2 linked regions of the Homo sapiens genome follow. The protein of the gene in region 2 binds, or shares a complex with, the protein of the main gene of each other region. Each region holds a gene or a part of one and is shown on either strand. Other genes may lie near its edges.

What was found. Proteins that work in one complex are often made in the same cells at the same time.
Region 1: GPKOW (region 2) and CWC22 share a complex: the UniProt entries of both Homo sapiens proteins name them as parts of the minor spliceosome.

The regions. Positions count from the first base shown.
Region 1 is NC_000002.12:179,947,922-179,955,816, reverse strand, and holds part of CWC22 (pre-mRNA-splicing factor CWC22 homolog), read left to right. Parts: intron 1-782; coding exon 783-860; intron 861-1,459; coding exon 1,460-1,612; intron 1,613-3,218; coding exon 3,219-3,346; intron 3,347-4,890; coding exon 4,891-4,992; intron 4,993-5,084; coding exon 5,085-5,305; intron 5,306-7,895. UniProt on the Homo sapiens protein: Required for pre-mRNA splicing as component of the spliceosome. As a component of the minor spliceosome, involved in the splicing of U12-type introns in pre-mRNAs. Promotes exon-junction complex (EJC) assembly.
Region 2 is NC_000023.11:49,113,137-49,121,031, reverse strand, and holds the end of GPKOW (G-patch domain and KOW motifs-containing protein), read left to right. Parts: intron 1-1,217; coding exon 1,218-1,327; intron 1,328-3,221; coding exon 3,222-3,435; intron 3,436-3,869; coding exon 3,870-4,002; intron 4,003-4,708; coding exon 4,709-4,811; intron 4,812-5,017; coding exon 5,018-5,141; intron 5,142-5,236; coding exon 5,237-5,306; intron 5,307-7,093; coding exon 7,094-7,179; intron 7,180-7,276; coding exon 7,277-7,411; 3' UTR 7,412-7,625; downstream 7,626-7,895. UniProt on the Homo sapiens protein: RNA-binding protein involved in pre-mRNA splicing. As a component of the minor spliceosome, involved in the splicing of U12-type introns in pre-mRNAs.

The sequences.
Region 1 (7,895 bases), on a different chromosome or scaffold from region 2:
AGGAATTAATATATTAATTAAGAAACTAATTTGTTAAGTAGAAATCATCTGTGATGATAGTATTTCTTGACTGGGCATTTATCCATTAGTTTAACAGAATTTTCAGAGAGGTTTACATGGCGCCTGAATAGCTAATTGGAATAATATACTAGCAGTTATGGAATGATTCCATTTATTTGTATAGATCCATATAGATAGGTCTATATGAATAACATTTATTTTGAGGTGAGAAAATTCATCCACAGAGGTGTTTTTTGATGTTTCTTTATCAACGTTAACTTTATGTTAACGTTGAAGTTGTACCTACTTATGCCTCTGTAAAGACTAATAATGATCTGCCTTTTCCATGCTAAATATATTCCTTAGCAATTGAATTCATATCCTTGGGACATATGTAACTGAATTGTTAGATGTTGTGTTGGTGAGTCTATATTTAAAAGAATTCTGCATAGAATCCTTTAAGAATGCAGTGTATTAAATCTCTCCCTCATATGTCTGTTTCCTATACTAGATTTTCTTGATGTGGTTCATACTTATCATGAATTTAGAATTTTATAATTAATGTAATTAGCATAAATGACTGTGGAAGCTGTCAGCCAGACCCAAGCCTGTAAAAAATGATGAGTTTAACATAGATTGAGGTTTTTATTTTATTTACAAAATTTTTGAACTGTTTTAAACCCTTATTTAAAAATGCAGGCAGTCACTATCATACTGGTAAATTATACAATATTTAGTCTCTTTGTGTTTTGAATCATTAATGTATTTTTTTTCCCAAATAGAAAGAACTCTGCAACATGATACTTGATTGCTGTGCCCAACAGAGGACATACGAAAAATTTTTTGGCTTATTAGCTGGGGTGAGTTCCAGCCTCTACTGAGGGAATTCTTAAAACGAATATTGTAAATTAATGATTTCTGCTTTATGGTCTGGTCTCATTTAAAAACATATTACCACTTTTGCTAAAAGCAAATTATTCTCTCCTTCCTCAGGTTTCCCACTCTCTTCACCTTCCTCTTTTTCTACTTCATTTTTGCAGTGCTTTAACTTTGCATATCACTTTTCCAGAGCTTTTTGGAATTTTCCATGATTTGTAATGATTTCCCAATAGACGACAAGTAAATGCTGTCTTTTCAAAATCTCAAAGCAGTGTCTAAAGTCAAGTACATGTTCAGGCAGCACAATTAAAGCATGATCTAAAATATTTCTTTAAGCTCTACCCTCATGTGATCACCTACATGTATGATTTTGTTTTAACATGTAAATCTCAGGTAATTAGAAACCATATATATTAACTTCTTTTTTGAGCATCATATGGCACAAAAGGATTTAGTGATATATGCTCTTTGAAAATATAAAGCATATTAATAAAGTTTTGATTCAGTAAATTTAGGATTTAATATGCTCATAATTGTATTAACATTCAATTTTTAATGGTACTGATTTTTTATTTATTAGCGATTTTGCATGCTAAAGAAAGAGTACATGGAATCCTTTGAAGGTATATTCAAAGAACAGTATGATACCATCCATCGCTTGGAAACAAACAAGTTGCGAAATGTTGCTAAGATGTTTGCTCACCTTTTATACACTGATTCACTTCCATGGAGTGTAAGTACATGGGTCAATATTTATACTTCCTTCCTAATTCCCTGTTCTCAAATAGATTTTCGTATAAGCTAGCCATATTTATCCTATTATGAAATGTGCTTTAAAATGAAATGTGTAGAACTGCTGTCTTTGAGATTATCATCATGTTATAAGGAATCAGAAAGCTAGGTAAATAATATACAAGAAATACTATCTTTGTATTATATTAACAGTCCAAACATGCCAGTGTTTCGATAGTGATGGCTAGGAGTGTCTTCAGGAAAAGTACTGCAGATTTTCATCTTCTCTGTGTACACACACGTGCATGCACACTCACATCCACATATGCCACTATTTTGGTGGTAAATGTGTCTCTGAATTACTCTCCCTTGATTCCTGAGGGAATAACTCTCCATGGTTCTCTTGTTGGGTTTGAGAAAAAATGATTGTTCTAGAAGGATGTGTTCTTTTTAGCAGACATTGAAGTTGGGTAAGCTATAGAGAGGATATCCTATAGTCATAGAACAAAGAAAGATATATTCTTGATAGGGAAATGTGCACTGGATTGAAATTTGAAAGGCGTTCATTAAGCTGGCATTGATTTTACAGCTGTTTTTCAACCAGTGTTAGTTAGCCACCACTTATATACTGAGTCATTGAGAGAGGTGCTGTGTATTCAGAGTGAATTATACATGGCCCCTCCTTTCAAGAGGGTTACAGTATAAGACCAGAGGTAAGATATGCCCATAGCAATGATACAAAATAAAAAGTCTTAGATTCTAAGAAAAGCAAAATTACTAAAGGAATTTGAAAGAAAGAAAGAGAGAAGGATGAGAAATTACATCCAGGAGGAAAGAACAGGATTATCTTGTAGAATGCCATCCTACTAATGGTAGAATGAGGCAATATCTCAAACTTAAAAACATTGGTTAGATTTTTATAGTACTTTAAGTACCAAGTATGTCCAGCTACATTAATAGGCATTCGTAATCTAACCTAGGAGACTAATTGTAATAATTTTTGACTTCTTTTTTCCCCTCTTTGAGAAAATGAAGTGAGAATTTTAAACAATTAACCAACTAATGGGCCCCCCAAACACATAACCCATAAAAACTAGAGGTTACTTTTATTTTTATTTTCCCTAAAAATATTTCTTTAGGCATTTCAGTTTTTAAGCCACAGTCTTAATATTCAGAATAAACCATTATACTTTCTGTCTTTTTTTAAATCGTATGTTATGTGTGCTAAACAAAATTGTAGCCTAATGTGCTAAGTGGCATTTTGCCCCAAACCTTCATATACACCACATTTTGATGAGTAAGGTTTAGGAGCTAGTAATCTTTACCATTATATGCTCAAGAGAGGATATCTTCCCTGCTATAAAAAGCACATTACTCAAAACAGAGAATGAAATCTATTTCTGTCGCATCTTAACATTTTGAAAGTTAGTATAGAGAAGTAGTTTTAAACTTTATGTCAGCATAAGGGGAGATATTCAGAGATAACTCTGGTTGAAGATGGGAATAAATAGTAATTTTGAGAAACACTTAAACCTACAAATATTGGTCACTATGTCCTGTCTTTTATAAATTAAAATATACTTGTCTTTTTTTATTTTAATTTTCAGGTTCTTGAATGTATAAAACTGAGTGAAGAAACCACTACATCATCCAGTAGAATTTTTGTCAAAATATTTTTCCAGGAACTGTGTGAATACATGGGTCTTCCTAAACTTAATGCAAGATTAAAGGATGAGTAAGTTTGCCATTAAGCACTTTTTATTCTTATTGACCTCTGGTTTTCTCCCATTGTAGCAGACATAAGCCCATCCGAGACTGTAAAAACAAGAGCTAAGCCCCCTGAGACTTTCTTCATCCATTAATCACTGTGAATTTCATGTTATGTCACACAGGACAACATGCAACTTTTAGTGGTGGTTTTTAGTTTAAGTGGAGTTCAAATTAATGCCTTTTTAGATTTTCTTAGAAAATACAGAATTGTTTTTGTATGCTCACTTGAATTCTCCAGTGATATTTATAATTTTATTTTCTTTTTACCCTAATTTTAAGCCTTAGAATGATAACTAATATTATCAGTGGACAGTTTTGAGTATATATTTCATCTATTAATAATTGTTCAAAATATTACATAGAACTAGAGCCTTATTTCAGGATTATTATGTAATCCCCTCTCACCTTTCTTATTTCCTGTTTGTTCAGATTGCCACTTAGGTTGACTTCTACTCCATTGACACTACTGAAATCATCCTTTCAGATTTCTCAGTGACCACCTGCCATATTCAGTTGTCTTTCTCAGGCTGCATGCCTCTTCACTTCTCTGCCTCACTTATGCAGTTGACTACCTACTCACTGTGGCTCCATACTTTCTTCTCACTTCCTCTCTCAGTCTTCTCCTCAGCCTGCCTCTTCAGTGTTCCTGGGTTCCACACACTGTCTCTGGACTATTCCATCCACTTCTCTTGGCTTCATATACTTACTTATTTGGTCCCTGTCTACTTGACCAGGCTCGTCTTCTCTCTCTTCAGCAAGCTGCACTCCAGCCATACCAACACTGCCAAGCTTGTTAAACATATCTGGCTCTTTCATGCTTCCTTACCTCAGTTTCCACTGCTGGCATTCTCCTGTCTTATTGATCTATCTGGGAAACTCTTAATCATTCTTCTTATATTGTACCTTTTTCTGTGAGAAAGTTTTTTCTGACTCCACTGAGTAGTTACTCAGTGTGGTGCTGAAAACCAAATGTCCAAAACCACCTTGTATTGTTAGTGTCTTTCTGGTTGTCTCACTCCATATATATTGTAATTATATGGTCTTCATCCTTGATTTCTCCCTTTTGTTGATGACTTCCACCTCTCCCCCAGTACTTGGCACAGTTCTATGTATGTGTGTGTACGTGTACATACACAACAGAGAAGGTTTTTAAAATTTTTTGTACATATATTCACTATATATACGTGTGTGTATATATATACACTATATATATTCACACGTGTATATATGTGTATATATTTATCTTTCTATATGTGTGTGTGTAAAAAAAGTTTTTTAAAAACCTCCTACATTGTATAATGATAGAAATCAAGTTTGGTACATTATTACTTGACCCTACTCATTTCATTTAGATAGCACGTAGCCTAACCTAATAAATGACATCAACTAGTTACTTGGTTGTATTTCATTTAGTAATTTAATATATGAAAAATCTGAAAAATGACTAAGGATTTTACCTTTTTATCTTTAAGCAATGTGTTCTCTTTTGTTTATTTTTTTCCTTTTTAGAACTCTGCAGCCATTCTTTGAAGGATTATTACCCCGAGATAATCCAAGAAACACTCGGTTTGCCATCAACTTCTTTACTTCTATAGGTCTTGGAGGTTTAACGTAAGGATTATTCTCAGAATTTATGTTCAGATTATAAAATTATCTCATAATTGTCTTTGAAATAGAATCTAACAGATTATATTTTAAATTAGGGATGAACTGCGGGAGCATCTCAAAAATACACCAAAGGTCATTGTGGCGCAGAAACCAGATGTTGAGCAAAATAAATCCTCCCCATCCTCTTCCTCTTCAGCGTCCTCCTCTTCAGAGTCTGACTCATCCGACTCTGATTCTGACAGCAGTGATAGCAGTTCAGAGTCTTCCAGTGAAGAGAGCGACTCTTCATCCATCAGTAGTCATAGCTCTGCCTCAGGTATTGAAGCTTATGTGTAATTTGGCTTGCTCTTTTCTAATAAATATGTTGCTGATATATATGAAGGAAGAAAATAATTTGATTGTTTATTTGTCTTAGAGATCAGTTGTTTAAAAGCCACAATTAATACAAATGGTCCCATCTATCATTCTTGCAGTCTGTAATACAACATTTATAATGCTGGGATTACCTTTTGACATCCTCATCATAGAAATGAAAATATTTCATTCGCAGATACTTATCTGAGTGATGACTGATATGAACCATCCATTCATAATGTTTGTAATCTAGTTTATAGGAGCTATCCTGATGTTTTTATTTTAAATAAATTTTAGTTTTTTACTTTTAATATTAAAGCTGTTTGTAATTGAGATATATCATACATTCATTGTGGATCTCAGATGCTATATGAATTTTTATAAAGGGAACACATCCTCATAGCTAGCACACAAATCAAGATATACCGGTACCCCAGAAGTTCTCTGTGTTTCCTCTCCCAGTTACTACTCCTTCCATCCTCATGGCAGCTACTATTCTGATTTGTAATTTCATAAATTAATTGTGCCTGTTTTTACCTTTAGCATTATGTATTATGGACTCCTTTTTATGTCTGGCTTATTTTTTTACCATTATGTTTGTGAGATTTAGATGCATTACTGCATTTAGTTATAGTTAATTCAGTAATATTGCTATGTAGTTTCCTACTATATGAATATACCACAATATATATTTATCATTTTTGCTCAACAGACTTTAGATTTTCAAGTGATATTTCCATGTATATTCTTGTACATATCTTTTGATGACCTTATTTATTTATTCACATTTCTACTGGGTATGTACCTATAGGTGGAGTCAGTGTGTCATAAGATGTGCATATATTTAGCTTTGGTGAATACTGTCAGTTTTCCAAGTGGTTATTCCTATTTACACTCCCACCGGCCATGTATAAGAGTTTCATTAGCTCCCATTCTCATTAATACTTCAAATTGACCGTCTTTTTCATTTCAGCCATTCTGGTGGATGTGTAATGGTACTGCATGGCGGTTTTAGTTTTAATTTGCATTTCAACTAGAGAAGTTAAATGCCATTTTATCCATTATTGGCCATTTGGATTTTTGTTGTCAAGTGGCTGTTCAAGTATTTTACCAATTTTTTTTAGTTAAGTTGTTTTCTCTGTTGATTTGTAGGTTTTCTTTACATATTCTAGATATGATATCTTTTGTACATATATGTATTGCAAATAACCAGTCCCATTCTTGTCTCTCTAGCCCTGCAAGGCTACCAGACCTCTGGTGTCTCTGTCCCTCAGTAGCATCCCTGAATCAGCAGATGCTCCCAGGGAGAAAGTAGCTGTAGAACATCACTTACTTCTCAATGTTTCTGCTTTCTCCTGCATCTTGGCCCCTCTAGTACTTGTTTTTCCACTAGCTCTCTGATGCCTTTATATTTTTTACTTTGTAACTGTAACCTTTTATTCTGAGCTAATTTTAGATTTAGGAAAGTTGCAAAAACAGTACAGAGAATTTCCATATACTCTTCATTCCAACTTCCCCTAATGGTAGCATCTTACATAACACTGGTTCATTTATCAAACTAGGAAATTAGCATTGGAACAGCATTATTGACTAGACTACAGATGTGATTTGAAAACCAGTTTTACCACTAATGTCGTTTTTCTTATTTCAGGATTCTGCTAGCATTTAATTGTATTCTCAGTTTTCTGCATTCTATGATAGTTCCTCTCGGGCTTTCCTTGTTCTTAATAGCTTTAACACTTTTGAAGTCCTCTGGTCACTTATTTTGTAACCTGTCCCTCAGTATGGAGTTTCGTCTGATGTTTTCTCCTTATTAGAATGAGATTAGACATTTTTGGCAAGAGTACATTAGAAACAATGTGTTGTTCTTAGTGCATCTTATCAAGAGGTTCATAATTTTATTTTGGGTGACAACCTTGATCACTTGAGTAAGGTGGTGTCCACTGGATGTCTTCAGGGAAACTATTTTTCTCTGTGAAAATGTCTTGTAGGGAGGTAACTTGATACTATGCAAATCTCTTTTTCCTCCAGCTTTTACTCACTAATTTTAACATCCATCTTTGGATGGTTAAAAAATCACCTAATGGTGATTTTTTATTTGTCTGTTTTCTTCTACATCTAGTAATTGAATTTCTTCTATAAGAAAGTATTGTCCCTCTTCCCTCATTTATTTATTTAGTCAACTGTAAATATCAATATAGACTCACGGTTATTTATCTTATCCTGTGGGTTAAAGTCCAATACTGTCATTTATTTTGCTCAAATCATCTTAGCTTTGGCAATTAGGAGTTCCTTCAACTTGATTTCTGTGTGCTTTTCAACATTTTTCAATGCAACATTTTAAAATTGTATCTGGCATTTCTAGTTATTTTCAGCAGGAGCACAGGTTTGCCACAGTCTTCTCTATCCTACCTGGAAGTGGAAATGCTATAGTAAAAGATGTTTTCAAAGTTTGATCTGGTTCACAGTTTCTGAAAAGATCTGTGTTGTTTTACCCAAGGTCAGCTCTGCTTTCTTTCATTACAGTATCTTGGTCCAAATAAGGGATTGTC
Region 2 (7,895 bases):
TTCTACATATCAGGTGACCAAAAATTCCATCCATCCTTCCTCTCACTCAGCATAAAAACCTTGGAGTCAGCCAGGGGCGGTGGCTCACGCCTGTAATCCCAACACTTTGAGAGGCTGAGGCCAGCGGATCACCTGAGGTCAGGAGTTCAAGACCAGCCTGGCCAACATGGCGAAACCCCATCACTAGTAAAAATACAAAAATTAGCTGGGCATGGTGGCACGTGCCTGTAATCACAGCTACTCGGGAGGCTGAGGCAGGAGAATCGCTTGAACCCAGGAGACTGAGGTTGCAGTGAGCTGAGATCATGCAACTGCACTCCAGCCTGGGCAACACAGCAAGACTTCATCTCAAGAAAAAAAAAAAAGAAAACCTTGGAGTCATCCTCAATTCCTCTCTTTATTTCGTGCCCCATACAATATGCCAGCACAATCCTATCATCTTTTTTCAAAATGACACCCAGAACTGACCACTTCTCACCACCACCAATACCACTGCAAAGGGCTGAGCCACCAGCATCTCTCATCTGGACTATTAGAGTAATTTCCTCACTGGTCCCTCTTGTGGCTCCCACCTGGCTCAAGGTCCTCTGACTCCTGCCCAGCTCTCCTGATTTGGTCTCTTCCCCACCCTTCTCTGCTGTCTACTCTCACTCTCTCCATTTCAGTCATGGTGACTTTCATGATACCCCTCACACATACCAAGCCTTGTCCGGCCTCAGGGCCTTTGCTGTTACTATGCTTTCAGCTTGGGACACTTTCTTCTCATATCCTCATGGCTCCCTCTGCTGTCATCTCCTGATCTCTGCTTAAATGTCAACCCAGTGGCACTCCCTCTCCATCCCTCTGCATCTTCTTACCCTGTTTTCTTGTTCTTTACATCACCACCTGACATATCATGTTTTCTGGGTTTTATTTATAGTATGTCTCCACAACTAGATCAGAAGCTCTGCAGGGGTAGGGGTTTTTGTCTGTTTGGTTCACAGCTTCATCCCCAGTACCTAGAACAGTACTTGCCATAGACAAGGTGCTTTATATTTGTTGAAGGACTGAACATGGAGGAGTACAGTGAGGGATGGAAAGAGGAAATCAAAACTCACCCTTGAGCTGATTGGAAAAGACGCGTAGCAGGTCTCCCAGTGGGGGGCAGCAAGTGCACTTCAAATAGAAGACCCAGTGTAAGCAAAGCCTGACCCTCCTTCCTCTACCTGAACCTGTAGGTGCCAGAGGAGGCTAATTATGAGGCGGTCCCCGTGGAGGCCTATGGGCTGGCCATGCTGCGGGGCATGGGCTGGAAACCTGGCGAGGGCATCGGCCGCACCTTCAATCAGTGAGTTCTGGGATAGGGTCGAGGGGACAGACAGATCATCAGGCTGCAATCAAGATCCCCAGGGTCACTGCCAAACCAGAACCACCTAGGCAGGGAGGGAGGATACATTATCGCCCTAACTAATTCAGCAGCCCCTTCCACTACTGTTTTAAACTCCCATTTGCCCTTTGAAACTCTAATAGAATCCCATTTATATAAAGTTTGCCTCTAGGGACATCAATTTCCTCATCTGAAAAATGGGGGTAATAGTACTGACTTCATAGGTCTGTTGTGAGAGTTAAATGAAATTATACACATAGGCCAGGTAGTGGCTCATGCCTGTAATCCCAGCACTTTCGGAGACTGAGGCAGGAGGATCACTTAACTCCAGGAGTTTGAGACTGGCCTGGGCAACATAGGGAGGCCCCATCTCTACAAAAGATTAATTAATTTTAAGAAAAGAAATTAGGGCCGGGTGTGGTGGCTCACACATATAATCCCAGCACTTTGGGAGGCTGAGGTGGGTGGATCACGAGGTCAGGAGATCGAGACCATCCTGGCTAACACGGTGAAAGCCCATCTCTACTAAAAAAAAAAATACAAAAAATTAGCCGGGCATGGTGGCGGGTGCCTGTAGTCCCAGCTACTCAGGAGGCTGAGGCAGGAGAATGGCGTGAACCTGGGAGGCGGAGCTTGCAGTGAGCCGAAATTGCACCACTGCATTCCAGCCTGGGTGACAGTGAGACTCCGTCTCAAAAAAAAAAAAAAAAAGGAAAAGGAAAAGAAATTATATACATAAAGCACATACAGTAGGCCCTGACCCCAAGAAAGCGTAGACTAAACATTTGCTATTGTCATGCAGACTTGCAACCCTTTCTTCACAATTGCAAACTCAATAATTCTGAAAACCAAACATTTTTTCATAACCCATTGGCAGCCAAATATGACCTGAATTGGCGTTTTTTTTTTTTTTTTTTTTTTTTTTTTGAGATGGAGTCTCTGTCTGTCACCCAGGCTGGGATGCAGTGGCGCAATCTCGGCTCGCTGCGACCTCTACCTCCTGAGTTCAAGTGATTGTCCTGCCTCAGCCTCCTGAGTAGCTGGGATTACAGGCATGCACCAGCATGCCTGGTTAATTTTTGTATTTTTAGTAGAGATGGGGTTTCCCCATGTTGACCAGGCTGGTCTTGAACTCCTGACCTTAGGTGATCTACCAACCTCGGTCTCCCAAAGTGCTGGGATTACAGGCATGAGCCACCATGCCCAACCATGTTGAGTATTTATAATCCGGTTTCTCCTGCTCGGTGTGAATGTTCATATGATTTCCCCTGTAGAAATAGTATATTTGGTTACAGCGATCTGCCTCTGATCTCACTGTAGATATTATGTAATAGATGGTATATGCAGCATGTTATTAGGTTGAACCAAATGAAATTGCTGTTTCTGTAGGTCAAAAACAGTCCTAATATGAGATCAGAAAGGGCAACCTTGAAAATATTGGTGGGGGCTGGACACGGTGGCTCACACCTGTAATCTCAGCACTTTGGGAGGCCAAAGAGGACGGATCACCTGAGGTCAGGAGTTCAAGACCGGCCTGACCAACATGGTGAAACCCTGTCTCTACTAAAAATACAAAAATTAGCCGGGCATGGTGGCATGCGCCTGTAACCCCAGCAACTCGGGAGGCTGAGGCAGGAGAATCCCTTGAACCTGGGAGGTGGAGGTTGCATTGAGTCGAGATCGAGCCATTGTACTCCAGCCTGGATGACAAGAGCAAAACTCCATCTCCAAAAAAAAAGAAAAGAAAAGAAAATGTCAATGGGGCGGGTGGGGCGGGTTTGGGCAGGAAGAGGAAGTAAATAAGGTGTTGAAGACTGTTGCATCCTCTCCAACAAACCCATATTCCTCCCTGCAGAGTAGTGAAGCCCCGTGTCAACTCACTGAGGCCCAAGGGGTTAGGGCTGGGTGCCAACCTGACCGAGGCCCAGGCCTTGACCCCCACTGGCCCCTCCCGCATGCCAAGACCAGATGAGGAGCAAGAGAAAGATAAGGAAGATCAGCCTCAAGGGCTGGTGCCTGGAGGAGCTGTGGTGGTTCTTTCTGGCCCTCACCGAGGCCTCTATGGGAAGGTAAGGAACCAAGATATCCCGGGAGCCCAAAACAGGCAGCAGGGAAGGTTGATCCGAGGGTCAGATGGAGGAATAATTGGATTTGAGGTAGAAAGGCTGGGACTCCTAGTCTTTTAGGTCTGCTTGGCCCACTGCCTCACTCAGTAACCCAGGACCACTTGCTGGCCTTTGTGAGCCTCAGTTCCCAGCTAAAAGGAAGAGAATGCCATATGCCACAAGTCCCTGAAGATTAAATGCTTAAAGGATCCAAGGAAGCCCCACAGTCAGCTGAGGGAGACACAGGAACCAGACCTGGTCCCACTTCTCAGGGGTCAGAGTCTGGTTGGGGAGACAGAGGAAGCAGGCCTCTTAGAGGTAAGGGGTTGACATCTTGGTCCTAGGAATGTGGGTGGAGTCCACAACCCCTACCTGACTTCTTCCCCTCAACACTTTAGGTGGAAGGCCTTGATCCTGACAATGTTCGGGCCATGGTTCGTCTGGCTGTGGGGAGCCGGGTGGTGACTGTTAGTGAGTACTACCTGCGGCCTGTCTCCCAGCAGGAGTTTGACAAGAACACCTTGGATCTCAGTGAGTGAGCCTCTTGTAGAGCTAGGGGAGTTGGCAACGCATTCCTAGGGGTGGCAGGGCCTGGCTAATGGGGTGGTTTTAGATCTGCAGCAGGGAGGGGCAGCAGTGTGCCTGGCAGATATGACTTCCAATCAGAGGTCAGGAGGTGAGAATGGACATAAGTGACTTACTCCATTTGATTGGAGAAAGGTCGATGTCATACCCCTGGGTCTGTAGCCTGTCTGAGTGAGAAGAAACAGGTGCAGAAACCAATTCCTACCTTCGAGATCTTTGTCCATTTGGGGTGATGAACCTCTCTTTTACTAGGGAGTGAGAACTGCTAGGATTAGGGTGTGACCAAGAAGGAAGGAATTCTAGGCAGACAGAACAGCACAGGCGAAGGCGTTTCGGTAGGACGGGGCAGTTTGGCAAATGGGTACAGACAGAGCTCTCTGGGAATCTCTAGTCCACACTAGGTGAGCATTGTTGTTGTGGGCTAGGTTGGCTGCGGGAGGGTTCCTGAAGGAAGCTGAAATGGTTGAGAGGTGGGGGAGAGGCATTCTACTAGCAAATGCATGAGGGGTGAGAGGGGCACTTTGGCAGGTGGGAGGTGGCTCTAGGCTGAGACATGGCCTTGGAAGGAAAGGGCAGTGAGACACTGAGGCTCTGTCCTGGTTCTCCTCATAACCTCTTGAACAGGCCAGATGAGCAAAACTTCCTTCCCCAGGGCAACAGAACGGAACTGCCTCATCACGGAAGACCCTCTGGAATCAAGAACTCTACATCCAGCAGGACAACTCAGAGAGGAAGCGGAAACACCTTCCAGACCGGTGGGACTCTGAGCATGCGGGAGGGGTCAAGAAGGCAGGGCTGTGGGTAGGCTCGAGCAGCCAGGGAAGGCTTCCAAGGCAAGGCGGGCTCATAGAAGGAACGGGGAACTGCATTGTGGGTGGGTTTCATAGCATAGGCAAAGGGAGGGCAACTGGAAAGTGCATCTGATGAAGAGCTAAGCCTGGTGCTGGCACCTTCTCCACAGACAGGATGGGCCTGCAGCCAAGAGTGAGAAAGCAGCCCCCAGAAGTCAGCACTGGTTGCACAGGGACCTGCGTGTGCGGTTTGTGGACAACATGTACAAAGGAGGCCAATATTACAACACCAAGGTGGGAACCCTGCAGCCTGAGTCCCCCTCCCTCTCCTAGGGACTGGGCCCCCCTACCTCTCTAAAATCTCACATCCCCCTGACCTGTATCCCCAGATGATAATTGAAGATGTCCTAAGCCCAGATACCTGTGTATGTCGGACAGATGAAGGCCGAGTCCTGGAAGGTGAGTTTGAGCGATGGCAGCTGGAGGTTGATCAAGAAGAGTGTTTTAGGCCCAGAGCCTGGCCCAGGCAAAGCTGGGAGGTTTGGCAGAGTTCAGGTATTTTGCAAGGCCTAGCATCCTCTTACAGAACATTAGACACTTCCATGATGGTGGTTGGTTATCTTGAGCCCCACTCTCCCAGTCTGTCAAGTTTTCTTTTTTTTCTTTTTTTTTTTTTTTGAGACAGAGTCTCACTCTGTCACCCAGGCTGGAGTGCAGTGGCGTGATCTCAGCTCACTGCAACCTCCACTTCCCAGGTTCAAGCGATTTTCCTGCCTCAGCCTCCCGAGTAGCTGGGATTACAGGCAAGCGTCACCACACCTGGCTAATTTTTGTGTTTTTAGTAGAGACAGGGTTTCACCATGTTGACCATGCTGGTCTTGGAACTCCTGACCTTAAGTGATCCTCCCACCTCGGCCTCCCAAAGTGCTGGGATTACAAGCGTGAGCCACCGCGCTCGGCCTCCGGTCTGTCAAATTAGCATGGAATTTACTATTTCTTCCTCTTGTGATTGGTGCCTTAGTGAAGGAATGTGTATTGAGCTCTCAGTGCAGGGCAGGGGTTAAAACATGCCCACAATAAAAGGTGCCTGTTGTTATCACCACCACCCTTTATTACAGTGATTTTTGTAAACTACTCCTTAGGCTACCTCATCTGTGAAATGGATGTGGCGGGACTCCCATCTGTCAACAGGGTGTAGAGTGGCTCCAGGGAATACAGGAAAGGCCCTTCTTTTTTTTTTTTTTTTTTTTTTTTTTTTTTTTGAAACAGAGTCACTCTGTCACCCAGGCTGGAGTGCAGTGACGCAATCTTGGCTCACTGCAACCTCCGCCTCCCGGGTTCAAGCTATTCTTCTGCCTCAGCCTCCTGAGTAGCTGGAACTACAGGTGCCCGCTACCACACCCAGCTAATTTTGGTATTTTTAATAGAGACAGGTTTTCACCATATTGGCCAAGCTGGTCTTGAACCCCTTACCTCGTGATCCTCCTGCCTCAGCCTCCCAAAGTGCTGGGATTACAGGCATGAGCCACCACACCCAGCTGAAAGGCCCTTCTTTTTTTTTTTTTTCTTTTTTTTTTTTTGAGATTGGGTCTCATTTTATCACCTATGCTGGAGTGCAGTGGCACCATCATGGATCACTGCCACCTCAAATTCCTGGTTTCAAGCCATCCTCTCACCTCAGCCTCCTGAGTAGCTGGGACTGCAGGCACTGACCACCATGCCTGGCTAATTTTAAAATTTTTTGTAGGCTGGGCGCGGTGGCTCATGCCTGTAATCCCAGCACTTTGGGAGACCGAGGAGGGTGGATCACCTGAGGTCAGGAGTTTGAGACCAGCCTGACCAACATGTCAAAACCCCATCTCTACTAAAAATACAAAATTAGCCAAACGCAGTAGTGGGTGCCTGTAATCCCAGCTACTCAGGAGGCTGAGGCAGGAGAATCGTTTGAACCCAGGAGGCGGAGGTTGCAGTGAGCCAAGACCACACCATTGCACTCCAGCCTGGGCAACAAGAGCCAAACTCAGTCTCAAAAAACAAAACAAAAAAATCTGTAGAGATGAGGTCTGACCATCTTGCCCAGGTTGGTCTCGAACTCCTGGGCTCAAGCGATCCTCCCAACTTAGCCTCCCAAAGTGCTGGGACTACAGGTGTGAGCCACCACGCCTGGCCAGGAAAGGCCCTTCTGACAGGACGCTGGTTGGGCTGGTCCTTGCTGTGGGCCTCACTCCCCTCTCCCTTATCCATAGGCCTGAGGGAAGACATGCTGGAGACCCTGGTTCCCAAGGCAGAGGGTGACCGTGTGATGGTGGTGCTGGGCCCACAGACTGGAAGGGTGAGTCTCAGACCTGGCAGTAGAGGTTTGTGGGTCGTTCAGGGCCTGTCCCAGGGTCTAGGCTTGCCTTGCTGATTCCACTTCACCTCTGTTCCAGGTGGGACATTTGCTGAGCCGGGACAGAGCACGGAGCCGGGCTTTGGTGCAACTGCCAAGAGAAAATCAGGTGGTGGAGCTTCACTACGATGCCATCTGCCAGTACATGGGCCCTAGTGACACAGATGATGACTGACCCATGGGACTCCTCCCATCCCCCAGGCTGGTACCAGTTCTGTACCATATGAGAAAGTTGCCTTCAGAAGGTGGGAAGATCATTGTTCCATCCTCTACTTCTGGTGCAGTCCTGGGACAAGGACAAGGGAAAGGGATGGGTGAACCAGTAGGGAAGCTAGAAACAAACCCAATATTTACCAAAATTTAGGGTATAATAAAAACCATTTCAAGTACTTAATAGAAAGATGAAATCATAAGTGGTATGATGAGCTGCGAGTTAAGGTGGGAACTGAGTTGACTGAGGTGGGAACCATTTCACTTTTCAGCCTTGCTTTTCTGCTCAGGGTACAGGACAAGTTAAAGGACTCATTTGATTGTGAGCTCACTCTTGGAATATAGATACTATAAGCTTGGGCACAGTGGTGCATGCCTGTAATCCTAGCACTTTAGGAGGCTGAGGTGGATGGATCGCTTGAGCCCAGGAGTTCAAGATCAGCCTGGCC